2 linked regions of the Homo sapiens genome follow. The protein of the gene in region 1 interacts with the protein of each later gene in a biochemical or structural test. Each region holds a gene or a part of one and is shown in the gene's direction. Other genes may lie near its edges.

Region 1 (5,396 bases):
GATCTTTGGTGGCCAATCTTGGTTACAGTTTGCTGAAGGGAGGTCTCCCTACATTTGCTATGTAGATGGGGGCTCCAGTCAGCATTGTCAGCTGGCTCTGCCTTTGGGGCTCCAGGATGCCAGCTTACTTCCCTTTCTTCACTCTGCCTCTCAGGCCCCACATCTTAGCTGAGGCCGACTCTGGTAGCCAAAGTACCAGAGCAGGGCTGAGTCATTTTGTAGGAGGGAGCACCAAAGACTGAGTGGAAAAGTCAGGAAAGTTGGCCCACGTTACCCAGGCAACTGTGAACCTCTCAACCAACTTCCTCATCCTCTTTGACTTCTCTTAGGTTTTCATTTTGGCCTTCAGGCTGCTAGCTTAACGATTATCAGGTCTGAGGAAGCCTTAGCTTTTGTTCCATTGTTGGTGTTATGGCCACCACTGGGGGAAAGCAGAACCAAACTCATTGTGGTGGTGTTTGCGGGGCTAGTGTTTGAGGCCAAGTGGCCATTGCCTGTTTTTTTTCCAAAGGGTTCAATGTGGAGACAGTGGAGTATAAGAACATCAGCTTTACAGTGTGGGATGTGGGTGGCCAGGACAAGATTCGACCCCTCTGGAGACACTACTTCCAGAACACCCAAGGTATGCTCAGGCCTAGCGTGGGTTGGTTGGGTATGAGCAGAGAGTGTGGCTGTCTTTGTTAATGGGTGGCCAACTGTTACCCTGCTGCAGCTCCTGGGGGCAGAAGAAAGGGAGGAAAGGGAGCAAATATTTGGAGGGTGTCAGGCAGGTGTGGTCTTTTGGTTGGGGGGAGGGGGTTACCTGTCATCTTAGTGCAGCCCATGCTCTGCCTTCCTAGGGTTGATATTTGTGGTCGACAGCAATGATCGGGAGCGAGTAAATGAGGCCCGGGAAGAGCTGATGAGAATGCTGGCGGAGGACGAGCTCCGGGATGCTGTACTCCTTGTCTTTGCAAACAAACAGGTGAGACTTCTTCCCACCCCTGAATTTGGGAGACAGCAAACTGGCTGTGGAAATTGTTGGCTCTTGGGCCTATTATATGGTTAACCCTTTTAGTATGCTCTCAATGTTAGAAGCGTGGGAAACTGAGCACTTGGCTTCTTTATGCCCCTCTTCTTGTGCCCCACCCCAAGCTTTATTTAGCAACATTTCAGTCCTCAGGAATTGTCTCAAATCTTTCTTTCATCTTGCCTGTTATCTACTTTAGGAGAATTGGCCTCACTCCTGCTGTCAGACAGACCTGATTCTTTGGTCAGTCTGAATCACGTCTCTTGCTTCCCCACCATCCTCGTATTTGGTTTCCAATTCTTCAGTACAGTGACCTCTAGTGCTTTGGATCTTGAGTTCTAGGTGACTAAATCCAAAGTAGCTCCTTAGGATCTTGTTCTGGGTTTCCTAAAATAAAGGAGGAGGGGAAGGTGCTGGTACACATTTCTTTGGTAGATGGGTGTTCTAGAAGCCTTTAAAAAATCCTGAGGCTTCTTTTTATGTGTCTCCCACGTGCTCCAGGATCTGCCTAATGCTATGAACGCTGCTGAGATCACAGACAAGCTGGGCCTGCATTCCCTTCGTCACCGTAACTGGTACATTCAGGCCACCTGTGCCACCAGCGGGGACGGGCTGTACGAAGGCCTGGACTGGCTGGCCAATCAGCTCAAAAACAAGAAGTGAAAGCCAGACAGCCCTAACAAAGCACCCCACCCACCCCTGACATACCTACTGTCACCCTGCCCCAGTCCTACCCCTTCCTCTCCATGCAAGTGTGGCCAGGGCCCTGGGTATCATGTCCACATGCCCAGCAAGAGCCTTGCCTCCCCTGCCTCCCCTCCTTTTTCCTGTCCACCTATATGACCAATCCCTAATTGCTGTCCTGATGATGAGTCATTCCAATTTACTGGATTTAAAACAAAAAGTTGTTACGGTTTCATGGGGTGGCCCCTCTCTCTCTCACCCTCTGGGTTTCGGGAGGTCGAGTGGGGTATTCTCTTTGTTTGGCAGTGGTTGCTGTCCTCTTGGCATCTGAGTCCTTTCCCTGTCCCCACAAGCCCTTCTACTCCCTGTTTGCCTTTCCTTTGCCACCCTCTCCCTGTTTTACATGGAAATTGCACGGGCCTCTCTGTGTTTGCGTGCATGTGTGCGCCTGTATATACATGTATAGAGAGATATATTTGTGGGGGCCGGGGGGAGCGGGGAGGGGGTGGAGTGAAGCTCAGGGCTTGCAGCCAGGACACTGCCCACTGGAGCCTGTCATCTGCCCCTTCCGTGTTGGTGAGATTAAGGGAAGAAGGTGGGAGGGCATTAGTCAAGCCGGACTGCCCCAGTCTTTGACTGGTTACCCTCCTCTCTGCAGGTAGGTTTTTCTGGATGATAGGACAGATGATGGATTCTTCACCACCATTTTCCTTGTACTCTTCTCTCCACCCTTCTTAGGGCTGGAGGATGGCATTTATCTCTAGATGACTGTTCCCAAGGAGATGCCACTCTGCTCTGCCTTACTGTTGGGAAGGAGAGAGGAACCCACTCACTCTTATCAGCTTAGAGTGTTCAACTGATCCTTCCCCACCATCTTCAGATCTGTTCCTCTGGAGCTTGACTGGGGGGTGGGGATGGCAAGTCCATGGTGTGTGTTAGGGACCCAGGGCATTGGGGGAAGGGAGGCGAAGGCCTGAGGTTTTCCATCTTCATTCTCTTTTGTTATTAGGAGAAGGTGAGGCATGGGCCAATCCCATTCCTGCCTTCCAGTGCCCCACCACCCTTCTGATCTTAGGGGTTGGATGGGTCATCTGTCCTTGGTCAGAATTTTCTCACCCTAGTACTCCTACTGGCCTGACCAGGGCTGACTGGGTATTCTAATGAGGAGCTGGGAAGTGGGGTGACATAGCTGACCTTAGTATCAACCCCCCTCTTCTCCAACTCTTGTTTTCTAGTCCAGGATATGCTAAAGGACGAAGATTTTCTATTGTTTCCAGGCCCTCAGACCATCCTTGCTGTCCCTTCACCCTCCATGCCCCTGCCATCCTCACTCACTTCTCATAAATGGATCTGGGGGTTAGAGTGGAGGAAATAAAATCCTGAAGTGGTTGTCAGTGCTTGTGGGATGCAGTGGTCTTCAGGATTCTCCCCGCATTATTATGTAGTTGTTCAGAAGCTGTTGCTACTGCGTCTCTCTGTCTGCAGGGGGCACTTGTTCCTGAGGTCCTCGCCTGGGTCCTGACTTCTGTAGTTTCTGTGAAGACGTGGCTGTCCTGTGGGCTCCTGTGTGTGCTGGCTGCGCCCTGAGCTCCGAGACAGCTGCCCATAACCTGCTAAGGTCAGGGCCCAGGGCCCCCCACAGCATGGCTGAGGGACCCCTTCCCAGTAGGGCTGTCCCAAGCCCCACTCCATGGGGCCAGGTTTCCTGGCCACTTTTGTTGATAGCAGATGGATCAATATTAGTAACCCCATCCAAGATTGAACTGTGAAAGAGAGGTTCCAGGGGTATCTCCCTCAGTGCCAGTTACTTAGTGATGTGTTACCCAGGATGCAGCAGGTGTGTGCAGGTATCTTGCTCTCTAGGCCTGTGTGTGTGTGTGAGTGTGTGTGTATATGGGTGTGGGTGTGTTTGTGTGTGGTGGTTGTGGGGGGGGTGTTGGAGGTTCTATTTCATTTAAAAATGTATTCATTTCCCTGGCCCCACAGATGCTTCCCTCCATACTTTTTATTTGCTCTGTTTCCTCAGATTTATTTTGTCTTGCCCCATTGCCTCTCCTTCCTTGAACTCTTTCCTTTTCAATCTCAACTCATTCACTGCTGTTGCTCATTTGCCCTTTTCCATGTATTTTTTCCTACTTAGGATTTTCCACTCTATCTTTGTGGTTCATGAGGACTTTGCCTCTTCTCCTGCCTCATTCCCTGACTTTCTCTAGTTAGATGTCAGTCCTAAATAGGTTTTCCTCACTTCAGGCCTCACCCCTCACCTTGTTTTTTTGGGGGCTCCAGGGACCAATCTGGGGCTGGAAATGTTAGGAGGTTGCCTTGGTGCTGCCCCAGATCTGTCCAGCAGGGGGCAGTAAGTGATCTTGGTAGTATCCCTGGCTGCTAAGCCCTTGGCAGGGGTGGTCCTTTCTACATTCCCATTCACTTAACAGCTCTTTTGGGATTGGGTGTTTCATTCCATTTCTGCCCACTCCCTCTCCTCTCCTCTCTGGTAGGTTTAATTTTATGCTTTCCCTGATTCCAGCTTTCTGCTTCCTGAGGACTCCCGCTCCCCCCACCCCAAAGTTTGTCTGTGGTGTTATAGTGGTAACTGCAGTTCCTCCTCTGGAATGTAGACTGTATATGTTTAATAACTCACCTTCTCTATCCTTGCTCAAAATGTGGGATAACGCGATGACTGTGACCCTGGTTGGAAATTAAACTTGTTTTATGCAGCTTTGGAGCCGACCTTCATCTTTGCTGTGCAGCAGCCGTGGGACAGTAGTTTCATGGTGAGGGGAGTCCTGTTTCTGGTCCCTCTCTCCATAGTGCTCCTTCTTTCAGCAAAGGGGTAAAAGGCACACTTGATTGATAGAGAGTAAGGTTATGGAGGAACTTAGTGCCACTCCACACTGGTTATTTCTTCCCATCATACCCCGCGGCGGGGGAGCCCAAATGAATTGGGCATCAGAGTGTGAGGGCTTCGTGACTTTCCTCCTCTAGTTCTAAAGGGTTTAAACCTGAAATCAGCTGTATTTCTCACCTGTTGGTAGACTGTATGGACTTCACTGGCTGAAGGGCCCTGAACTTGGAGGGCCCCATGTGCCTCTACTCTCAGATCTCCTCAGCCTTGCACATGAGGTGCTTCTAGTTTGAACAGAGACCCCCTCACTAGTCTAGTTCTGGACTTTGGCAGTGAATAAACATGAAGGATAAACGTCTGGGCAGTGTAATGACCTTAATCCTTCTTACAACTGATGGCCCTGCATCAGCTCTACTTCAGGCGTGTGGTTTTTCATTGTCAGGATGCCAAGCCTCATCCAGAGATCCCACAAATGTCTTGAGGAATAGACCTTTTCCATAAAGCCTCCATCCTCCCATCGCACTCCCACCACTATTCTGTTCCTCCCCTGCTACCAGTGTCTGGCTCCAGGCAAAGAAAGGGATGGTGCTACCTTTAGGGTGGGTGAGGTCTGGGTGAGCCAGGCAAGCCTTCCCCAATCTTAATATTTTCTTAAGCTTTGAGGACAGAGGTCTTCCCAGCCTGCTTTTGTGGGAAAGGGATAGGATTTAGGCATATAATAAGTTTGAGAGCCCCAAGTACCAGTGTGAAGCATATAATTTATATTCAGTTACTTCCCTGCTGCCTCCCCTGCCAATTTTCCTTTTCAGCACTTCTATTATTAATAGGCCATCACCCTCAAGGACCAGTGCTTCCACC
Region 2 (7,000 bases), on another chromosome or scaffold:
CACGCCTGTAATCCCAGCACTTTGGGAGGCCAAGGCAGGCGGATCACGAGGTCAGGGGATCGAGACCATCCTGGCTAACAGGGTGAAACCCCATCTCTACTAAAAATACAAAAAAATTAGCTGGGCGTGGTGGTGGGCGCCTGTAGTCCCAGCTACTCGGGAGCCTGAGGCAGGAGAATGGCGTGAACCCGTGAAGCAGAGCTTGCAGTGAGCCGAGATCGCGCCATTGCACTCCAGCCTGGGCGACAGAGCGAGACTCCGTCTCAAAAAAAAAAAAAAGAAATGATTGAAGCAATTGGGTGAGATAAGATAATTCATAGCGAATGGAGAGGAACAAGCTGAGAGCAGAAGCTTGAGGAACAGCAAGCCCTTGATTATTAGCTTGGGATGGACAGAGAAGGGTGATAGCTAAAAGGGATTTGAGGGATTATGAAATGATGAAAAAATACACACACACATTATATATGTACATTAGAAGATAGTAAAGACTTGAGTTTATTCATATGCTGAAGAGATGATGTTTAAGTCCAGTGGTGAGAAATGGGGCCTTTAGAGCTGCCTCTACCCTGGCCCAAAGGACTCTTGCAATTTGTCTGAATCATTTGAATTTCATGAGAGTGGACTGTGTGTGTGCTGTCTGTCAATGTCTACCCAGTGCAGCTTACCTACTAGGTGTTCATAATAAAGTGGTGATTATTGGCGGAGCAAGATCCTGGAAGAGGCAGGAAAATCTGAATCTAGATCCAAGAGGAAGGATTAACTTTGATGGGACAAGAGCTGGTTTGGGAAGAAAGTAAAAACTTGAAGTTTTGGATGCTTTGGGGAAAAGCTAGAAAGGACTGTTAGTGTTAATATAGAGTTAGGGAGTGAGAGAGAAAAGGAGATTGTAGTTGGGGCATATGGCAGAGGCTCCAGGTTTTTAGAAGTGGTACACTTCTGAGGGATAGGGTTTGGGCTGTCAGCTGTAATGGAATAGAGATAAAGATTTACTGGAGCTGGGACATTGGGACCCTGTGACTACAGCATATGAGAATGATTGTTGTTCTCATGGACACCGAAATAAACCAGGGACTGGCATGTAGGAGGAATATTTCAAGGCAATAAGGAGGAACTAGGAAAATGTTGCTAGCCTCTCCCTCTGTTTACCATACTTGTAGAATGTCAGCCTTTAGAAAACAAGTAGCTTTTTTTTTTTTACTCCAAAAGGCTACAGGGCTGCAGCAAGAGATAAATGGTTAGGTTGCAGGGCTGTGTGCCATGGATGTAGGGTGAAGCCTATGGACCCTTCCTGGTATAGTATTTCTGAAGGTATAACACAGAGAGGATTACAGAGGAAACCAATTGCATTGAAATGTGTTTTAAAAGTATTCTTAAGTTTGTCATACAGTAATTATGTGCTTCTTTATTAATACCTTAAAGACACAGCAGCAGGTCTGATTAAATAAATGCAGTGTAATGATGAACATAAATATCTTGATGAGCAACAAACTGTAACATGCTATAAAAATATCTGTGATTTGTATTGATACCAATTACAGGTACTACTAATGCTGTGGTTTTTGGCCTGCATTCATAATTGAAGGAACTAGTGAATTCCAGTTGGTTTGGTAAAAAGTAAATAATGTAATTTATTTTCCATCTAAGTATGCAGACACCCCATCATGTTCCCCCGGACAATATAGACCTCAGGTTAAGAACCCCTGACCACTAGGGAAAGCTATCAATGGATTATTTTGTGAGAGATTTGAAGATGCAGGGAAATCTGTTAATAACATGAGTTCCTGAGAGCACAGTGGAAGAAGAAAGAACATTAGGAGTTTGGGTCAAGGAACGTAAATCATGAATCATGGAATATTACAGAGGTACAGATGAGTTCTGTATTTTGGGAGGTGTATCCAAGATCCTCCAAGGAGGCCAAGGGTGAAAGCATAATCGAGTTAGCTGACCTCAATCAAGGTTTCAAAATGAACTCATTCTTATGGGGTCTAATCAGATGAGAGCTGCATTCTTGAAAGCTTGATTAGACTGTTAGACTTGCCTTGGCTCAGAAATCCAAATAAGAGTGGTCAGAAGTAACAAGTATGCCACCTAAGAAATCCTTGCTGAGATGTAGAGGGGACAGAGTTAGCTGATTCTGAAGACACTTGACTGTTAGAAACAACAGGAGAGCCCCTCTAGATGCAGCAAGAGCTTCAGACTCTTGCATGCTTCTTATGAGAATCTAATGCCTGATTATCTGAGCTGGAATGATTTCATCCCAAACCACACCCCTCAAGCCTCAACCCATCTGTGTAAAAATTGTCTTCCATGAAACTGGTCCCTGATGCCAGAAAGTTTGGGGATCTGCTGCCTTAGAGAATATATTTTATTTATTTATTTTTTATTTTATTTTATTATTTTTATTTTTTAGCCACATAAAAGGTAGCAGCACACTTATTTGGAAAACAATAATTTCAAAATCATCTCCTGAACTCAGAATCGATGGGTCAGGGTAGACACCCTAAGTAAACAGGTGAAATCTTCATTAATTGTTCACTTATTAAGTAAAAATTTAAATTAATTGATTATGTACAGCAGTGTTTTTCCACATTTCCCTGATAAGAATCATTTGGAGTACTCTGTAAACACAGCTTCACTGGAGATTAATCCCATCAAATTGATTTAGTGGCTCTGGGATGGGCCACAGTAGTTTGGAAATTTTTATTTTTACAAATGCTTCCTGATGATGACCAAATCCAAGGAAATTTGGGAAACACTGATCTGGAACATAACTTTCAGTTTTCCCTGCAGTTTTTAAGTCTTGAACGACTGATCATCCTAGAGATAACCCACTGAAAAGTCTTCTCCAATCCAGTTTTATGAAAGAAAACTCTAGAACATTTGGTTTGATAAAATTTTTCCGAAGCACCAGAAGTACTTTACTTTGGCTTTTTAAATTTCTGGTCCATCCCTTCTAGTTCATGTTTTCTTGAAGAATCCATCTTCTTTGAGTTGAGCCACAGCAATCTAATCTTTTTTTTAAATAATTGGTTTCTTATTAAAGGATTGCGACATTTAATAGCCGTTGCTTGCTTTTGTCTTTCTCCCTTCTCCCTGAAACTTGTTAAGAGATGCCTCAATATTCTGGCCTTTCCACCTTCAATCTCATACTGACCACGCCGTGTATGCCAGCCTGGATCTCATAGTTTTCTTTAACTGGTTCAACTCCCTTTGTTGTCCTGGTCAAGATAACATCTCCTTCTTCCAAGGTCATGATCTTAGAAACATAGTTGATGATGTAGGGGATGGAAAAAGTCATGGAGGATGTCTCACCCTCCTGTCTTGAGTTCGCCGTTGACCTTGAGCCAGAGCCTCAGATTGGGAGGATCAGGGATCTTCTCCTTGGGCACGAACGCGCTGACTGGGCAGGAGGCCATAAAGCTCTTGGCCAGAGTCCAAGGCAGCCCCTTCTTCTTGCACTCATCCTGCACGTCCCTGGCAGTAATGTCCAGGCACAGGGCATAGCTGCTCACGTAGTCCATAGCTGCGCGGCCATGCTTGCCCATCACCATGCCCAGCTCCAGCTCGTGGTGCAGGTTGCAGCTGTACGCGGGCATGAGGATGGGCGAGCCCTCAGGTGTGTAGGCCGTGGACAGCTTCAGAAACAGCACGGACTCGCTCAACACCGCGTTGGCATCTCCCTGGTGTGGTCCCCATAGTTCCTCCCCACACAGACGATATTCTTCCCCCACCCCCAGAAGCGGGACGGTGGCCTGGGGGTCGCCATGATTCCTGTCAATTGCCTAGAGAATATATTTTAATATGAGGATATTAAACATCTCTATATAAGATATTCCTTCAGAGAATTTAGGATTTGGAAGAAACCTTATAGTCATTAACTGTAATGTTGCATTTTGTGGAAAATCCTGTTGGTAGAATCCCTGAAGGATGGCTGTTTAACCTTCCCAGAAATACTGCTATTGAAAGAGAGCCTGGACCATGCATAGACAGCTCTTTATATTGAGCCACAAAAATTTGTTATTTATAATTTCTATCTAGTAGTTGTTTGAAGTTGAGATTTTATAGGCAAACAGAACACACTTTAGCTACTATACTGTTGTTCTGAAATGGCGTCTATGTATTTTTTTCTGTCAGGTAATATTAATCAGTCACTAATGACGCTAAGAACATGTATGGATGTCCTAAGAGAGAACCAAATGTATGGAACTAACAAGGTAAGCAGCAGCCTTCTCTGTTCTTTTGTATAGTTTCATTTGTGTGCATTTTTTTTGCGTAACACATTTGGATATGAATGTCTTTGTAGATGGTTCCATATCGAGATTCAAAGTTAACCCATCTGTTCAAGAACTACTTTGATGGGGAAGGAAAAGTGCGGATGATCGTGTGTGTGAACCCCAAGGCTGAAGATTATGAAGAAAACTTGGTAATTTTAATGTATTTGTCCTATAAAGTCTTGAGTTTTTGTCGGGAAAACAGTTACTTGGATGAGCAGAATGACATTTTGAATATTTTAAAAATGGATAGAGAACCATTGATTGTAGAAGTAAACTAGGCTTGGTGTGGTGGCTTATGCTTATAATCCCAACATGTTGGGAAGCTGAGGTGGGACGATCAATTGGGCCCACCTGGGAGGTCGAAGCTGCAGTGAGTCGTGTTCATGCCACTGCACTCCAGCCTGGTGACAGACTGTCTCAAATAAATAAAAATAAGCAATCTTTGCTTCATTTAGTAATTTCTGGGACTTGGATATCCTTATTTTTTTTTAAACTCCATTTGTTTTGTGTTTTAGCAAGTCATGAGATTTGCGGAAGTGACTCAAGAAGTTGAAGTAGCAAGACCTGTAGACAAGGCAATATGTGGTTTAACGCCTGGGAGGAGATACAGAAACCAGCCTCGAGGTCCAGTTGGAAATGGTATGATTTGGTGTTGTATCATTTGTCCACTCATTGGTCTGTCTGTTTCTCTCTTTTTTAAAAAAAATTATTTCATTTAAGAGAAATGTTTACATACCTTCTGAAGAACCAAGCACATAATAATTTGAACAAAATTTAAATGAGCTTATTTTGCATACTATGATTCTTAGGTAAGTAAACTTATGTCAGCTCAAGAAATTGCAATGGTTAGTTGCACTGGGGCTGTATGCAGTGTTAAACTTGTTTAAATAAGCTCTTTCTCTCCTATGTAACTTTTTGTAATTTTCTATAATTCAATACAGAACCATTGGTTACTGACGTGGTTTTGCAGAGTTTTCCACCTTTGCCATCATGCGAAATTTTGGATATCAACGATGAGCAGACACTTCCAAGGCTGATTGAAGCCTTAGAGAAACGACATAACTTACGACAAATGATGATTGATGAGTTTAACAAACAATGTAAGGGCAAAACTATTTGAAATAATTTTATTTAATTATTTTTTTTTTTTGAGACATAGTTTCACTCTGTACCCCAGGGTGGAGTGCAGTGGCACAATCTCGGTTCACTGCAACCTCCGCCTCCTGGGTTCAAGCGATTCTCCTGCCTTAGTCTCCCGAGTAGCTGGGACTACAGGCACATGCCACCACGCCTGGCTAATTTTTGTACTGTTAGTAGAGACGGGGTTTCGCCATGTAGGCCAGGCTGGTCTCAAACTCCTGACCTCAAGTGATCCGCCTGCCTCGGCCTCCTAAAGTGCTGGGATTACAGGCATGAGCCACCACTCCCAGCCAATTTGCAATAATTGTAACTTCTGAAATTGAAAGTATTTTCAATGAATCTGAGTTATATGGTAGATTGCATATTTAAGGAAGTTAAAGAAAATTGTGTCTTTAGAACTTTGAAGCACTCAAGGCATTGTTTGATTAGTATGACAAGGCATTTTTCCACAGCTCTTTTTTGTATTCTAAGGAAGTCAAAAAGAAAAAAGTGAGCGTGTGTTCTTTCTTTTGTTTTTTACAGTGATGGAGACACAAAGAAATATTTTTTAGTTTCCCCTGTCTACATAGTGGGGATTGTAATTGTTTCTACCTCAGGATATGTTGTGAAGATAAATAAGATAAAGTATGAAAATCCTGTAGAACAGTAAATTCTGGTACATAGTGAATGTATCTCAGTGAATGAATGTATCTACTTTTTTTTTTTTTTTTTTTTTTGAGACTGAGTCTCGCTCTGTTGCCCAAGTTGGAGTGCAATGGCGCAATCTCGGCTCACTGCAACCTCCGCCTCCTGGGTTCAAGCGATTTTCCTGCCTCAGCCTCCTGAGTAGCTGGGATTATAGGTGCACACCACCACGCCCTGCTAATTTTTGTATTTTTAGTAGAGACGGGGTTTCACCATGTTGGTCAGGCTGGTCTCAAACTCCTGACATCGTGATCCACCCACCTTGGCCTCCCAACATGCTGGGATTACAGACGTGAGCCACCATGCCTGGCTCTACTATTTTTATTATCATTATTCATTTGAATCTTTACCAAAAAGTTGTGAGATAAAGTGGTATTTAAATTTCCATACTGAAATGAAATTTGCCCAGAAATATTAATTAACTCGCCTAAGTCATAACTAGTAAGTGATGTTCCAAGGATTTCAGCTCAGGTTTAATTAATCCCAAATAGTAGTGTTGTTTCTATTTTTGCGTTTGTTGTTGTGAAGCAAAGTACCTGTAAGGATTGGGAAGAGAATGCTATAGTGCACAGTGAAAGACTTGAGTATTTTTTCAGCATTTAACAGAAAGCTTCTGTGAATATCTTGTCAACTGGAGAATGAAGCTCCTGATTTCCCTCTAAACTTGTTTTCTCATTATAGACTGATTCTCACAGAGATTTGCTGAATAACTACATTTTATCTAGTGTCTGCTAGCAAAAGTTGATATCATTGTTTGTTTTAGAACTGGTGTAAAACTTGACCTGTATGTTTTTGTTTCAGCTAATGCTTTTAAAGCTTTGTTACAAGAATTTGACAATGCTGTTTTAAGTAAAGAAAACCACATGCAAGGGAAACTAAATGAAAAGGAGAAGATGATCTCA

Evidence for each region.
Region 2: the proteins of ARF3 (region 1) and KIF23 form a complex in vitro, tested with the Homo sapiens proteins (one study listed by BioGRID).

What each region holds. Positions count from the first base shown.
Region 1 is NC_000012.12:48,935,223-48,940,618, reverse strand, and holds the end of ARF3 (ADP-ribosylation factor 3), read left to right. Parts: intron 1-511; coding exon 512-622; intron 623-839; coding exon 840-964; intron 965-1,510; coding exon 1,511-1,672; 3' UTR 1,673-4,880; downstream 4,881-5,396. Other genes in the region: peptidyl-prolyl cis-trans isomerase FKBP11, read left to right, coding at 4,881-4,965.
Region 2 is NC_000015.10:69,431,349-69,438,348, forward strand, and holds part of KIF23 (kinesin-like protein KIF23), read left to right. Parts: intron 1-4,134; coding exon 4,135-4,214; intron 4,215-4,303; coding exon 4,304-4,423; intron 4,424-4,789; coding exon 4,790-4,913; intron 4,914-5,215; coding exon 5,216-5,374; intron 5,375-6,899; coding exon 6,900-7,000.